Homo sapiens: one gene and its partner. The protein of the gene in region 1 interacts with the protein of each later gene in a biochemical or structural test. Each region holds a gene or a part of one and is shown on either strand. Other genes may lie near its edges.

Evidence for each region. Proteins that work in one complex are often made in the same cells at the same time.
Region 2: the proteins of TNFRSF21 (region 1) and NGFR form a complex in vitro, tested with the Homo sapiens proteins (one study listed by IntAct).

What each region holds. Positions count from the first base shown.
Region 1 is NC_000006.12:47,306,680-47,315,214, reverse strand, and holds the start of TNFRSF21 (tumor necrosis factor receptor superfamily member 21 precursor), read left to right. Parts: upstream 1-5,309; 5' UTR 5,310-5,703; coding exon 5,704-5,799; intron 5,800-8,535.
Region 2 is NC_000017.11:49,505,293-49,512,292, forward strand, and holds part of NGFR (tumor necrosis factor receptor superfamily member 16 precursor), read left to right. Parts: intron 1-364; exon of another isoform or gene 365-1,006; coding exon 1,007-1,366; intron 1,367-5,119; coding exon 5,120-5,372; intron 5,373-5,524; exon of another isoform or gene 5,525-5,608; intron 5,609-5,690; exon of another isoform or gene 5,691-5,821; intron 5,822-6,599; coding exon 6,600-6,760; intron 6,761-7,000. UniProt on the Homo sapiens protein: Low affinity receptor which can bind to NGF, BDNF, NTF3, and NTF4. Forms a heterodimeric receptor with SORCS2 that binds the precursor forms of NGF, BDNF and NTF3 with high affinity, and has much lower affinity for mature NGF and BDNF.

The DNA.
Region 1 (8,535 bases):
AAAGGTCCCAACAGGAGTCTGTGGACCCTTGCCAGCAGGGACGATAGGATTACTTTTAGGAAGGTCTAGTGTAGGTTTAAAAGGGGTACAAATACATACAGGAGTCATTGATTCAGATTACAATGGGGAAATTCAAATTGTTATATCTACTTCTGTTTCCTGGAAAGCAGAGCCAGGAGAGCGCATAGTGCAGCTCCTGATTGTGCCATATGTGGGAATGGGAAAAAGTGAAATTAAATGAACAGGAGGATTTGGAAGCACAAATAAACAAGGCAAAGCAGCTTATTGGGTAAATCAAATTACTGATAGACGTCCTACCTGTGAAATAACTATTCAGGGAAAGAAATTTAAAGGCTTGGTAGATACAGGAGCAGACATGTCAATCATTTCTCTACAGCACTGGCCGTCCACGTGGCCAATTCAACCCACTCAATTTAACATGGTTGGGGTTGGTAAAGCCCCTGAAGTATATCAAAGTAGTTATATTTTGCATTGTGAAGGGCCCGATGGACAACCTGGGACTATTCAACCAATTATAACTTTCTGTACCTATAAATTTATGGGGAAGAGATTTATTACAACAATGGGGAGCACAAATTCTAATTCCAGAACAATTATATAGCCCTCAAAGTCAACATATGATTCATGAAATGGGGTATGTACCCGGAACAGGACTAGAAAAAAAAATTTGCAAGGTTTAAAAAGTTCCCGCCAAAGATTAGGATATCATTTTTGATGGCAGCCATTGTTAAGCCTCCAGAACCTATACCTTTAGAATGGTTAACAGATAAGCCAATTTGGATAGAACAATGGCCGCTAAGTAAAGAGAAACTGGAGGCTTTGGAGAAATTAGTTACTGAACAATTAGAAAATGGGCACATAGCTCCAGCATTTTCTCCTTGGAATTCTCCAGTTTTCGTAATTAAGAAAAAATCAGGTAAATGGAGAATGTTAACTGACTTCAGAGCTATCAATTCAGTTATATAACCTATGGGAGCATTACAGCCAGGATTGCCTTCTCCTGCTATAATTCCAAAAAATTGGGCTTTAATAGTCATAGATTTAAAAGATTGTTTCTTTACTATCCCTTTAGCTGAGCAAGACTGTGAACAGTTTGCATTTACAATTCCTGCAGTAAACAACATGCAGCCTGTTTTCATTGTTTTACAGATGGGTCTAGTAATGGTAAATCTTCTTATTCTGGATCAAAAGGTAAAGTTTTTCAGATGCCCTATACTTCAGTTCAAAAAGCAGAGCTTGTAGCTATAATTGAGGTATTGACTGCTTTTGATATGCCTATTAATGTGATTTCTGATTCTGTTCCTATAATTGGGGCAGAATCAGGTTTACAAAAAAATTGGGGCAGAATCAGGTTTACAAAAAAAATTGGGGCAGAATAGGTTTACAAAAACCTATTTGTAAACAGGATTGGACCCAGTTAGAAAAAATGAACGTACTTGTTTAGGAAGATTGCATTGCAGAACAGGCAGAGGTGCTGCACAACGATTCCTATGGAATCATTATTAATTCGTCCCCTAAGGGGACGTTTAGCTTGAATTGCACCTCTCAGTCTGCATGCCACGGCCACACTATGTTCAGATGATCTGAACAAAACGGTCAGATGGTAGAAATGATAAGAACTACGGCAAAAGTTCCCATTACCTGGAACCATGGTGGTATAGCAGCACCTCAGCCTCAAATGATATAGCCCGCTCTAGGAGCTTAACATAAGGAATTAAAATTAAAAGAACAAATGTTTAAAGCATCGCAGGCACACCTGACCTTAATGCCAGGAACTGGAGTGCTTGAAGGAGTTACAGACAAATTAGCAGCTAGTAACCCATTACAATGGATAAAAACACTTGGAAGCTCTGTGATTTCAATGACGTTTGTGCTTTTAATCTGTGTTGTTTGTCTTTGTATAGTCTGCAGATGTGGAACCTGACTCCTGCGAGAAGTAGCTCACCATGACAAAGCTGCCTTTGCTTTTATCGATTTGCAAATCAGAGAAGGGGGACATGTTGGGAGCAGGCCCCCCAAAATCTGGCCATATACTGGCCTCAGAACTGGCCATAAACAAAATCTCTTTTGCACTGTAACATGTTCATAATGGCCCTAACGCCCAAGCTGGAAGGTTGCAGGTTTACAGGAATGAGGGCAAGGAACACCTGGCCCACCCAGGGCGGAAAACCACTTAAAGGCATTCTTAAGCCACCAACAATAGCTTGAGCGGTCTGTGCCTTAAGGACATGCTCCTGCTGCAGTTAACTAGCCCATCCTATTCCTTTAATTCAGCCCACCCTTCGTTTCCCATAAGGGATGCTTTTAGTTAATCGAATATCTATAGAAACAATGCTAATGACTGGTTTGCTGTTAATAAATATGTGGGTAAATCCCTGTTCGGGGCTCTCAGCTCTGAAAGCTGTGAGACCCCTGATTTCCCACTTCACACCTCTATATTTCTGTGTGTGTGTCTTTAATTCCTCTAGCGCCACTGGGTTAGGGTCTCCCCAACGGAGCTGGCATTTTCCTGCCAACTTTCTGTCATTCCCTCATAGATCGGCTCAGGATGTTTGTCATGCAGCAGTCATTTCTCAAAATGTGGACAATTGTTATTTTCATTATAAAGAACATGAAATTTTACTAGACCTTCTGAAAGTGTGCAGGATAAGTTAAAAAAATAATTAAGACAAGATGGTAAATCTGGTGATTTCTTTTTTTTTTTTTTTTTTTTTTTTTGAGACGGAGTCTCGCTCTGTCGCCCAGGTCGGACTGCGGACTGCAGTGGCGCAATCTCTGGTGATTTCTTCAGTATCCAGATGTATATATCAGATTTTTAACAAGAAAGATAAAATAGAAAAAAATGAAAGGTTAGGAAAGCATTAATTGGAATGTACTAAGGACGAGGAAAGAATTAGCAATGATTTTTGAGGTTGGAAAACTAGAAAAATTGTACAACATTGGCAGAAAGAGAGAAAGTCCAAAGGTAGGATGGAGGGTGGAGATAGAGTAATTTTTATGGCAAAGATGACATTGGATTAACTCATTTAGGCCTTCCTTTAAAATTTAGCTATAATTATGATTTATCAACACATATCTCCTCTTTCCTTGGAACTTTGGGAGAAACTTCCTTATGTATCATTGAATTTTTATCCTTTCCCAGAAAACAGACATGTCTAAGTTACCACATTGAAAATGTGGCAATGAATTATTTAATGGTTGCAGCATTGTTACTTCAAAATGGAAGGCATGTATACATTTCAATTCAAAGTAATAAAATTTCACACTGCATCTAGATTCAAATTATCTATAATCTATCACTCTATAGAGGGACATGTATTTAAATGTTAGTAGTAAACAGAATTGAGTAAATTTTTTCATCTCTCAAAATGTATATTAAATTTCAACTTGATATGATCAATGGAACACCAGGAATTCATGAAGTTTCAAAGTGGTCCAAGCACAAATAAACAATTTTCTTTTAGTTTTAGGAAGACAAATAGTTGAGAAGAACTTCTTATACCTGCATAGTAACCCAGACACTAAACTCTAAAGTTGCCCAACTCTTTAGAGCAAATCAATCATATATTACCACGAAAAATGTGAGTTTGGATGCAAGGAGTAAAATGGACTAAATAAAAACGTATTTGAAGCTCCTCCTCCTCTTTAATACCTATGTAACTTCTTAAAAAAAAACAACCCAACCTTATAATAGTATTGGCCAGTCATTTGAATTTTTGAAGAAAAAATTGATACAGTTATGCATGAAAACACAGCATCTATCCCTCACTCTTTCAACTTCTGAAAATAGCTAGAGAGTGGCAAGTCCAACCATCATCCTTTCCCCAAAACTCCATAATTAATGGTAATATTTTCTAGAACTCCTTTGAATTTCACTAGAGGTTATATATTGTAGCTTTTTTCCCACTCTAACATTTATAGACAATACTGACAAATGTTTGAAATAATAGATTGGAATTAACCCTCATATTAATTTTAGCTTCTACCAAAGTGTGCATAGAGCAAAGAATCAAAGGACAACATGTTAACTAATAAAGCAAATAATTGGTACCTATGACTTAGCAAGTTACCTTTATTAGCACTGGGTGTTGGATCTTGAAACTGATAGTTTAAAAAGTGTGATTCTTTTGAAATGGGACCAAAGGAGCCTAGGATAAGCCCAGCACCATAGGGCTCCCAATTGAGGGGTGTGGACTGGATGGCTGAAGAGGTAATATCAATACAGTGTGCCATGTGCTGTCAGTACCTAGATGATGGATAACACGATACCAGAAATGGTGGCCACAGTCAGGAGACTCGGCCTTCCCCCAGGTGAAACAAAGAAAAGGATAACAGCTGCTCTCTTACATTCAGAAGTGTGTGAGATACCAACATCCACGAGAATATTCCAGTTCTCCTTCTGAAGCAGAATACTACCTATTCTACCACCCACATCCTGACAAGGCCTTTGGAAATCAACTCAAAAATTTTTAGCATTATTTTTTGGGGGAAGGGTGATTAAAAAAAATCTCAGGGATAATCCGATTCAAAACTCTTGATTTTTAAATTAGGAAAATGCATCTTTTGATACATTTCAAGGAGTTCAAAAGTCCCTCCAAGACCATCCATGGACCCAACACCAATGACTCTGGGTTTTAAATCCTTTTAGTTTGGATTTCCTTAATTGCATTCATAAGCCCATATTAAAATTAAAATATAAAAAATTAAAATCTTTGCCCCATATTAAAATCACCCTGAAAACTTAAAAAACAAACAAACAACAACAACAACAAACCTCAATGCCCAGACCAGATCCTGTCCTGTTCCAATTAAATCAGAGTCTCTAGAGGTGGGACCCAAGAATCAATATATATGTTTTGAACTCTCCAGGTGATTCCACAGGGCAGCAAAGTTTGAGAAGCAACACACAGGTCTCCTTTTTCGTCACGCAGTTGATCTAAGTGCTCTGTGGTCTATTCACCATCGCTCTCTGATTTAATCATCGTGTCCGAAACAATGGAAAGGCGTATGTAGCTGAAATAATTTAGTTGGAATTATCTCGGAAAAAATAAGTAAAGTTAGATCAGGAGTGAGATGCTTTCTCAGCGCTTTCCCTGGGTCAACAGGCGCGTGCAATTTCCTCAGCGAACGCCAAGGGGCACCCTCTCCCTCCCCGCTCTACCTGGAACGCCTTCGCCTTTCCAACCGCACAAAGAGCCCGGCCTCCTCCCGGGTGACATCACAAAGGGCCGGTCCCCCGCCCCTTCGGCGCCACCACGTGTGTCCCTGCGCCCGGTGGCCACCGACTCAGTCCCTCGCCGACCAGTCTGGGCAGCGGAGGAGGGTGGTTGGCAGTGGCTGGAAGCTTCGCTATGGGAAGTCGTTCCTTTGCTCTCTCGCGCCCAGTCCTCCTCCCTGGTTCTCCTCAGCCGCTGTCGGAGGAGAGCACCCGGAGACGCGGGCTGCAGTCGCGGCGGCTTCTCCCCGCCTGGGCGGCCGCGCCGCTGGGCAGGTGCTGAGCGCCCCTAGAGCCTCCCTTGCCGCCTCCCTCCTCTGCCCGGCCGCAGCAGTGCACATGGGGTGTTGGAGGTAGATGGGCTCCCGGCCCGGGAGGCGGCGGTGGATGCGGCGCTGGGCAGAAGCAGCCGCCGATTCCAGCTGCCCCGCGCGCCCCGGGCGCCCCTGCGAGTCCCCGGTTCAGCCATGGGGACCTCTCCGAGCAGCAGCACCGCCCTCGCCTCCTGCAGCCGCATCGCCCGCCGAGCCACAGCCACGATGATCGCGGGCTCCCTTCTCCTGGTGAGCGCTTGCGTGGACCGGGGGTGGCGGCGGCGCCGGAGCAGAAGGAACCGCTCTCCGGGAGCCGGGCGGGTCACCGGGCCGGGGCTTAGGGAGGCGCGGGGCCCGGCCGACTGGGTTACGGGCACTGAGGGGTTTCCAAGGGAAGGCAACACACCAGAGGGCCTCGACTAGGTTATTTGGGGGAATCTCAGGGCTCAGCCGGGGCTGGGGAATGAAGACGAATTGTTTTCCTTGCAGTCTGGCTTTGCTGGAGGAGACGCTAGAGGTAGCCGCCCAGCTTCTGCGCATTTGAGGGCTTTTCCCCCTACTCGGCCTACCTCGCGCTCCCCACGCCCGCAGCCACAGCCCCCCACCCATCGGCCACTGCCCCTCTGCGTGGTGTGGGGCCTCGCCGCGGTGTGGGGCTCCCACGGCCGGCCGAGGCCGGCGCTTTGTTGCAGCTGCAATGTCATGTCGGGATGCTACCGCAGTGGAAGACAGTGGTACCGGTGCGCGCCGGACACCGGAGACCTCCGGGTGCTGTCGCGCGGTGCATTCCCGAGCAGGGCGCAAGCCGCCCCCTCCTCAATCCCTTTACCCTCTCTCTTCCCTCTTGGCTCGGGTGGGGTCTCAGGTTCTGTATGCCGAAATATCACCCTTAGACCCACTCTCCGGCGCCTCCAAAGCGCCGGCTTCCAGCCAGCCAGCGCGCCGGCACTGGAATGGGGGGAGGGGGAAGGAGATGTGTGTGAAGGAAGATGAATTTTCTACAGTCTTTCCGATCCCTCGTTTACCTGTGGCTAGGCAGGTGACCCTGCAGGGTGGTGCAGTCTCCCTCATCGTCTAAGCTGCATCCACATCTCGGGTCAATCATCTTGACCAAAAACTTACCCTCAACTTCCCCCAAATTCCCTCCCTTTATTTCCAAATATTGGGGTGAAGGGGCAAGTTAGGTGGAAGAAAATTTGAGATCAAACCCTTGAGCTTCCCTTGCCTATCTTTTATCACTGCAGGAGGGATGGAAATTCTTAGCTAAAAACCGAACAAAAAAACCCCCAAGAAACAAGAGCTTGTTTTCACGACAGGGCTGTGTAAGGGAAAAGCAGGCTTGCTGTCTCCTTCCCCAAAAGGGCTTAACGCCTGGCCAGCCAAGAACTGCTTAGATCTCAGGACATTGCAGTTGCTATGGCCTGGGAATTCATCCTACAGACACTCTGGTTCCTTGTGTGTGTGTTTTAAGAGGAAGAGAGAGACTAAATAAAAGTTTGTTACTGTTAGCATTTATAATGAGGCAAGTCCCAGTCTCCCTTCAGAAACTCTTTTCTGCCCACTTATTAATGGCATGGCCAAGGTTTATATCTTTGAAACAAGTGAAACAAGTGTGGTGGATGGTAAGCAGTAGTCGGGGAGTCTCTTGGGACAATGAACCTGGATTGACAGTCTTGGTGTGGAGAGAAACACATCTAGGTCCATGGGAACACTGATCCTAGTTCAGTGGAGTGAGAACTATCATCATTTCCTTTTTCACAGCTTTAGATCCACTACTATCCACTACTATGTTTCAGGTGCTTCTAACACATCTGATTATTATATGCCTCACAGAGTCCATTCCCAGATTAAATCTTAAGTCATTGTGCAATACTCCATTTATTTTACCTTTTAGCATGAGGTAGGTAATTAAACAAAGGTCTTGATGTAATCAAATGGTAGGTTGCCTTAACTAACTGAGAAAGGGCCCAGCTCCTTTTCTTGAATCATCAGGCTAGGCACCCTGGCTTATGCCTGTAATCCCAGCGTTTTGGGCGGCCAGGGTGGGAGGATTGCTTGAGTCCAGGAGTTCGAGATTTGCCTGGGCAACATAGTGAGACCCCATCTCTACAAGAAATTAGGTGGGTGTGGCGGTGGTGTGCGCCTGTATGCCCAGCAACTCAGGAGGCTGAGGTGGGAGGATGGCTTGAGCCCAGGATGTTGAGGCTGCAGTGAGCTGTGACCATGCCACGGCACTCCAGCTTGAGTGACAGAGTGAGACCCTGTCTCCAAAACCAAAATAAAAAATAAGTCATCAAACTCAACCTACCCTAAAAATTGTGCACTGGATTTGCAACTAAAGACCTGACAATTTAAGTTTGGCTACTTTGAAAAAGATAAAATTTATAATGGGGCTTAGGAGCAGTCTCAAGTTGATAACCAATACAGGATTCCTTATTCTTCTGCTAGCTATGCTAAAAAGACTTCAGGTAAATTCATGAAATGGCATGAGGTTCAGCCCTTCATCCTGAAGGGTGACTGGAGGGTGTGCCAGGAATCAGTAGAGACTATGTTATAATCCCCATCCAGGGTGGGGAGGAAATGCCTTTTGTCTTTCACATTCTTATTCTGCATGCCCAAGTCCACAGCACAGGCTTTGTTAATGTATAAAATGATGATCTCATGATACTGTTCCAAGAAGTATTTATCCCATTGGGATCCTTGGCCATGTGAACATAACGGACATCAGGTACTGGAGCCTGGGTACACGTGGCAGGGTACTCAGAACACTACTGGGGGAGGTGGGCAAGTTAGTGGCCTGCCCACGTATTACAGTTAGATTAAAAAGTAATAATCCCAGTAAAATGTTCTATTTATTATGTCTTTTAATGCTCTTCTTTCAAATATCTCCCTTTTTGTGTGATAATATTTATTGTCATCATTTTTGTGTTATGACTTTTTGTTTGTCATGACCGGCTAACTGCATGAAAAATAGCTTACTATAAG
Region 2 (7,000 bases), on another chromosome or scaffold:
CTCAGGTTCCTAAATCTATGCTCTTCCTGTCCTTGGAGCAAGGATAGGTCCTGCCAGATCCAGGGTGGCACAGAGTTCCCCACCCAAAGCTGGAAGGGGTGAAGAAGATCTGGCCCTGTTCCTTCCCCTCCCTGTACAAGGAGGCAAGGACCCTGGCGTGCCCAGCCTCCTTCTCCTTATTCTGGAGTGCACATCCAGTAATTAAGAAAACATGAGTGAAGAATGAGCTTGGACATCTCCCTTGCATCCTGGCCGAAAGGGCAGACGACGCATGTGCAGATCTCAAAAGGGTGATCATATAGTTGTGCAGCTTGTGTACTGCTCAACAATATCCATCTGAGAGAGTGAGTGTGGGCTAAGAGCCAGCTCTCTAGCTTCAGTGGCTCCTGCCTTACCTGAGCCCTCTTGCCTGCAGGTCCGTCCCCACCCTCAGGATCCAAGCCCTTCAGCAGCATGGGGGTAGTGCCATGGGTGGGAAATTCTGCTGTCTAACCCCGGTCACTCCCATTTAGGCTGCATCTGAGCCCACACCTGTGTGGAGAGGAACTGAAGGCAGATGAGGCAGGAGGCTCCCTAGGGGAAGGCCTACCTTGCCTGGACCGGGTTAGCAGCCCAGCTCTGGCCCGCGGGGAGGGCTGGGTGGGAACCACGTTCAGATTATTCCTTAATCATGCTGGGAACATAGTACAGGCCTGGGAACTCTCAAAGAGAATTTGCCAAGAAACTTAGCGGCACCAGCTGGGTTATGCCGGAAAGCCTCCCGGCCGGCCAGTGCTTCTGGAGCCTGGAGGATGCGGCTCCGGGCCTCCTCCCCCTTTCCCAGTTGGCTGCCACCAACTTTCACAGGCTAGGGGTCAGGGTCCCTTGGAAGAGGGTGGGAGCCGATGAGAAGGCTGAAGGAGGAAGTCAGCGTCCTGGCAGGCAATAGGGGAGGGAGAGACTCCAGCTCCTGCGTCCCGGGTGCCCAAAAGAGCAGACGACTAAATCTGGTGTCCGCTGCGCTCAGGCGTGACGTTCTCCGACGTGGTGAGCGCGACCGAGCCGTGCAAGCCGTGCACCGAGTGCGTGGGGCTCCAGAGCATGTCGGCGCCGTGCGTGGAGGCCGACGACGCCGTGTGCCGCTGCGCCTACGGCTACTACCAGGATGAGACGACTGGGCGCTGCGAGGCGTGCCGCGTGTGCGAGGCGGGCTCGGGCCTCGTGTTCTCCTGCCAGGACAAGCAGAACACCGTGTGCGAGGAGTGCCCCGACGGCACGTATTCCGACGAGGCCAACCACGTGGACCCGTGCCTGCCCTGCACCGTGTGCGAGGACACCGAGCGCCAGCTCCGCGAGTGCACACGCTGGGCCGACGCCGAGTGCGAGGGTGAGTGCGGTTCGGGGGGCGGGGGGAGTGGGGGTGCGGGGGTGGGCTGGGGGCATAAGGAAGGGCGCTCTCTGGAGGTCGACAAGGACCCTGCCTGGCCTGCTGGGGCAGCTTGGTGACCTTGAGGCAGCGTGCACCTTCCCTGAGCTTCAGTCCTTTCCTGGTAACCTAAGGGAGGAGGTCATTCCCCATCCTGTCTCAGCAAAGAACCCCTCTCTGTGTTACCTTCTTTGGGCTGTTTGGAAAGTGGGCGTTCTCAGCGTCCCAGGCCGCGGGTACTACATTGTAACTCATCCTCCGGGACGCATTTCTCTGTGGCTTCCCGCTAGTGATTAGCTGAACAGCAAGCAGCTCGAAGGTGGCCACTACCCCCAGGGCACAGAACGGGAGAGGTCTGATCCATGAGGCAGGCTTTCTGAACTGGAAGAGCAGCTTGAGGACCCTCAGGAGCTGGGACCCTTTGACTCTGAGCCCTGGTCTAGGTCCATGGTGGGTTTTGGCTCTGGGACCTGAGATGGAACCCACCCTGTCCTTGACTGACGTTAGGGAGTCCACTCCTGTCTCTGGGCCTCGGTTTCCTCACTGGTCATATGGCTGCCAGGGTTGTTGCGGGTTAGGGAATACAGTGGGGCTGGCCCACTTCAGCTTGCCCTGTCTAGGGGAGGGGTCAACCGTGTTCCGCAGTTTAGTGAAGGATGAGGGGCATGCAGGGAACACTAAGGAGGGGCTCTGTGGAAGAAGAAGGAGGGGAGGGGCAGACCTGGGGCTCAAAAGCCCGGGGACAAGGCAGTGCATGCTCGTGGCTGTCAGCTCCAGGGATGGATGGGAGCTGGGCGTGCCCACCTTAGCCAAGCACAGGCCCCAAGGAGATGGGGTGGTTCTTGGGATGGGAGAAGGAAGCCCCGTGGGAGCCAGGGCAGAGCTGTTTTGGTCTCTGGTTGGTGACGTCCGTCTCAGGGGAGACTGGTGGGCTTTTCCACTTCGGGGAGAGGCTGGCAGTGCCTTTACATCCTGTCCATCATCCTGTGGCCATGCACACATTGAGCTATTTCCCTTTGAGAACTAACCTGCATCCTCAGGTTGCCTTTACCCTGAGCAGGCAATATAGTACCTCCTTCAGTGAGCCCCCAGTTTGATGGGAGAGATAGCCTTCGCCCAGTCTAATGAGAGAGACGTGGTCCCAGCACTTAGTCCCCAGCTGAAGGAGAGATAGCTCTCACTTTAGAGATCCCCCATTCTGATGGAGGCAGCAGAGCTTCTGCCTCAGTTAGCACCCAGATCTCCTGCCCCTGGGGACCCTCCAGTCTGATAGGGGCTCCAACCCACACCTGCCTTCCAAGTCCTGCCATCTCTGGCTTTAGGAGCTCAGGATGGGGAGGGCTGTTACGCTGGGCTAAGGCCAGGTTGAGCTCAAAGCTTCCTGCCTTGGAGAAGGAATGAGGAGTAGGATGTGGTGGTTCTGTTGGCAATTGCCCTGGGCCAGGAGACAGGCAAGTGGCATCAGGCGCCAGGCAGAGCGCAGGAAGGGTTTCAGCAGCCAGGCATCAGGCAAGCAGGCAGCTCATTTCTGTAGGCAAGTCCAGACCAGCCAGCTGGGGGCGGGGCGGGGGGACTTGGGGGCGCTGCTAGAGCAAAGAAAGGTGGTGACTGTGGGAGGAGCAGGCTTTGTCTTTTGGGGCATTCACAGATTCCTCTCAGATACCAGCCCACTTTCCCAGCCACCCCGAAGGAGGAGGGTGCTCCTGAGGGAGTGTTCATACCAGACCCTGTTCCCCTTTCAGCTTCAGGCTCTGAAGGGTTAAATGTCAGCTCTGGGACAAGAGACCATTTCAGGAAATGGAATTTGATTCTTGGTTTTGTTGCCCCCTCCCCTCCAGCGTACCATACTTTCCCCGCATTTACTTACGTTTCAGGTGTCAACATGGTGACTCACCCACCCTCAGGGCAGAAGGGCTACCCGCTGCCCCAGTGAAATTCGGTTTGAATAGGGATAACCTGGTCCCTCCATGCAGCCCGGAAATGGCTGTCAGGACCTGCCAAGGGCTTAGTAGGTTGGAATGCTAGTGGACGTGGCCACATCTGGATCTCATCCCCCCGCCCCCGTCAGAGGGGATTGGAGAGATGAGGGCAGCTCCCCAAGAGTCAGTGCCGCCTCTGGTCTGGCCACGCCTTGCTACCCTCCCAGCCTTCCCCTACCATGCTCTGATCTCGGTGATGGTCTCATTCATTGGGCACCCGGACATGTACACTCCTTCACCCTCTGGCTTGGGGTCAGTCTGAGCTGAGCTGTGTCTCCAGCCTCTGGACTTGGGCTGCCCCCCAGCTTGCCCAGTCCCCTGGCAGAGCAAGAGAAGACCCTCCCCAGTCCAATGCTCCACCTGGGGCTGCCAGAAGACAGGGCTCTGTCTCCTTCACTACCTCTGGCCCCTCCCAGGACGGAGACGGGGAAGGGTGGTTTGGGTGACAGATGGCAGCCCCTCACTGCTGGCAGCCAGATGGATTCTAGATTCACATCTGGGGGCTTTGCCCCTCAGAAGGTGCTGAAAACGGGCCTTTGAAGCATTTCATCTTGAGTGGAAGAGGCCAGAAGATGGGTGGCAGCTTCTACTCCTGCTTGGGTGGGCAAAGTGGGGGCTGGGAGGGCAGAGCTGGGAGCCAGTTACCCTCCCCTTCACCCCATTGGCATGTCCTGCCTGCTTTCCCTCCCTGCCCCAGGCGTGGGAAGTGAGGAGGGACGGGGTAGGCAACATTGCCCAGACAAGTATCCCCAGGCCGTCCAGAGCCCACAACCCCTAGCACTGCCCCTGGCTGTGTGGCAGAATGGAAAATCCCACCCACTGGTGCCAGGAAGGGCTGGGTCCCCTGCCAGGGAGGCTGGCAATGCCCAGCTAGCATGAGAGGGTCTAGGTGGGTGGCAAGTCACAGTCTCCCCCCGCCAGCTGAGGCATTGAGCTGGACCTGCCTCATGGGCCCCTTCTCCACTGGCTCTCTGCTTCCTGACCAAGGAGGGTTGGGGCTACCTGATGCTGTCATCTCTGGTTGGCAGGATCAGGCTAGGTGGGAGCCAGGCAAGACAGGAAACAGAGGCTGGCCACTGTCCAAGGGCTGGCTGGAGGGAGGCAATCCAGCTGCCCCCGCACCCCTCCTTTCCACCCAAGCCTAGAGCCTGAGACATGAGGTCAAAAAGTCGGGGAGTGCTCTCAGGGAGGTGGTGTGGGGGAAGCACCTCTCTGACCAGACCTGTGTACCCTCTTCTTTCCTTAGGACAGGAGTGACTAGGGTCATCAAGGACAAGCTGGGGCCAGAGAGACATTTCCCAGAGTGACTCCAGCTCAAGGCCTCCCTGTGGTCAGGCTTCTTTGTGTGTTTGCTCCTAGATAGGCCTCTCTAGGTACTCAGGAGGTGGAATAGAATTCCAGGACCATAGCCCCAGATGGAAGGGAGCTTAGAGACTGTCTCTCTTAATAGCCCCATTAGATAAATAAGGAAATCAAGGTTCTGAGAGAAAAGGGGGCTGGGCCAGAGTCACCCAGCAAGTCAGTGGCGAAGCTGAAGGAGATGCAGCTCTGTGGGCCCACAGGCCTTGCTCTTTAGCATCATGACATCATGCACGCAATCCCAGCTGTGCATAACAGCTGGGCACAAGAGCACCTGGAGCCAGGGCGGGGACACAGGAAGAACACGGCAGTGGGTTAGAGCTAAAAGGGAGGAGTGGGGGAAGTGGGTCCTCACTCCTGTGGCCTTTTCTCCCAGAGATCCCTGGCCGTTGGATTACACGGTCCACACCCCCAGAGGGCTCGGACAGCACAGCCCCCAGCACCCAGGAGCCTGAGGCACCTCCAGAACAAGACCTCATAGCCAGCACGGTGGCAGGTGTGGTGACCACAGTGATGGGCAGCTCCCAGCCCGTGGTGACCCGAGGCACCACCGACAACCTCATCCCTGTCTATTGCTCCATCCTGGCTGCTGTGGTTGTGGGCCTTGTGGCCTACATAGCCTTCAAGAGGTAAGAGAGGGCACGGTGGCGACAGAGAGGGGAGATGTTTGCCCTCAAGGAAGACTTTGCTGTGACCTTGACCTGAAAACATACACACCCTTTTAACTCAACCCCAAACCAAGCTCATCCTCACTCATCATCTGCCGCCCCACTCCAGGGTGCAGCAGGTCAGCAGGAGGTGAGGGGAGAGGATCCACCTGTCCTGTCCTGTCCTCTCCTGCCCTGTCCTGGCTCCAGCCCCTCCCACTCCCATGCCGCACCACTCCCTGACTCCCCACCCCCAACTGCTTGTGTCCTCATCCCCAACCTCCTTCACCCCACAGTCACCTGCGTGTGCATATGTCTCTTCCCCTTCGCTTGTCACACTGGGAATGCTGTGGCACCCACATCCAGGAATCCAGGATGTGCACGAACTCCCAGAAGGCATTTTAAAGCTTTAAATGCATTTTCCATTCTTTCTAAAAAAAAAAAAAAAAAATCATCAAAGTAACACATCCGTGTTTAGGAAAATGCAAACAAGACCAATATCTTTCAAAGCAAAAAGTAAAAGCCCCCTTTTATCTCCCCAAATCCTACTTCTCTCCTTATTGGAATCTGTTTGAAATGGATCCTTCCCAACTATTTTCTGTGTGTCTTTTTTTATAAACATGTATATAAACCTTTTATAATTACATGTAAACATGGAGGGCTTTTTAGGCATCAGTGAGATCACATTGTACATATTCTACAGCTTACTTTTTTCACTCAGTCTCCCTCAGGAGACCTTTCCTCAGGAATGTAGATTAGCTGATCATTTGTAACCACTCATTCAATAGTATGGATGGATGGTAATTTATTTAGCCAGTCCCCATTGATGGACATTTGTTTTTTTTTTTTTTCCAGTTTTTTGTTATTGCTTATAATTGCAGAGGAAATCCTTTTATATGTCACTGCCCACATGTGGGAGTATTTTAGAAGGGTAGATTGGGAGAAGAGGAGTTCCTGAGCAGTCACTTTTGCTGCACTGCTCATTCCAGGAACATTTACTGAACACTTACAGAGGGCCCCTCTGCCCTCATGGAGCTTTCAGGGTAGGTGGGGGCAGATGTGCAAAGAGGAGCCTTAGATGGTGGGGTGGCGGTTATAATTGGGCACCCGCCATGCCCCTGGCCCTCACACGGCAGAGCACAGATACTCAGCTGCATCGGCCACTACAGCCCCTCGCCCCCTGAAACCTGGCCTGTCCTCTGGCTCCAGGTGGAACAGCTGCAAGCAGAACAAGCAAGGAGCCAACAGCCGGCCAGTGAACCAGACGCCCCCACCAGAGGGAGAAAAACTCCACAGCGACAGTGGCATCTCCGTGGACAGCCAGAGCCTGCATGACCAGCAGCCCCACACGCAGACAGCCTCGGGCCAGGGTGAGCAGCGGCCCGCTGGGGAGCTGAGGCGGAGCTGAGGCTGAGGAAACAGAAGCAATTAAGATTAGACTCCAGGAAGGACTGTCGGGGGGGCGGCAGGGCTGGCTCAGCGGTGCCCCTGTAGATGGATGGAGAGGCTGGCCGAGGGGAATGGGAGGGAGAGGTCCTCTCTAGAGGAACGACTTGGGAAATGGAGGCTTTTACAAGTTGGAGCATCCAGACTCATCAAGCTAATTGTCC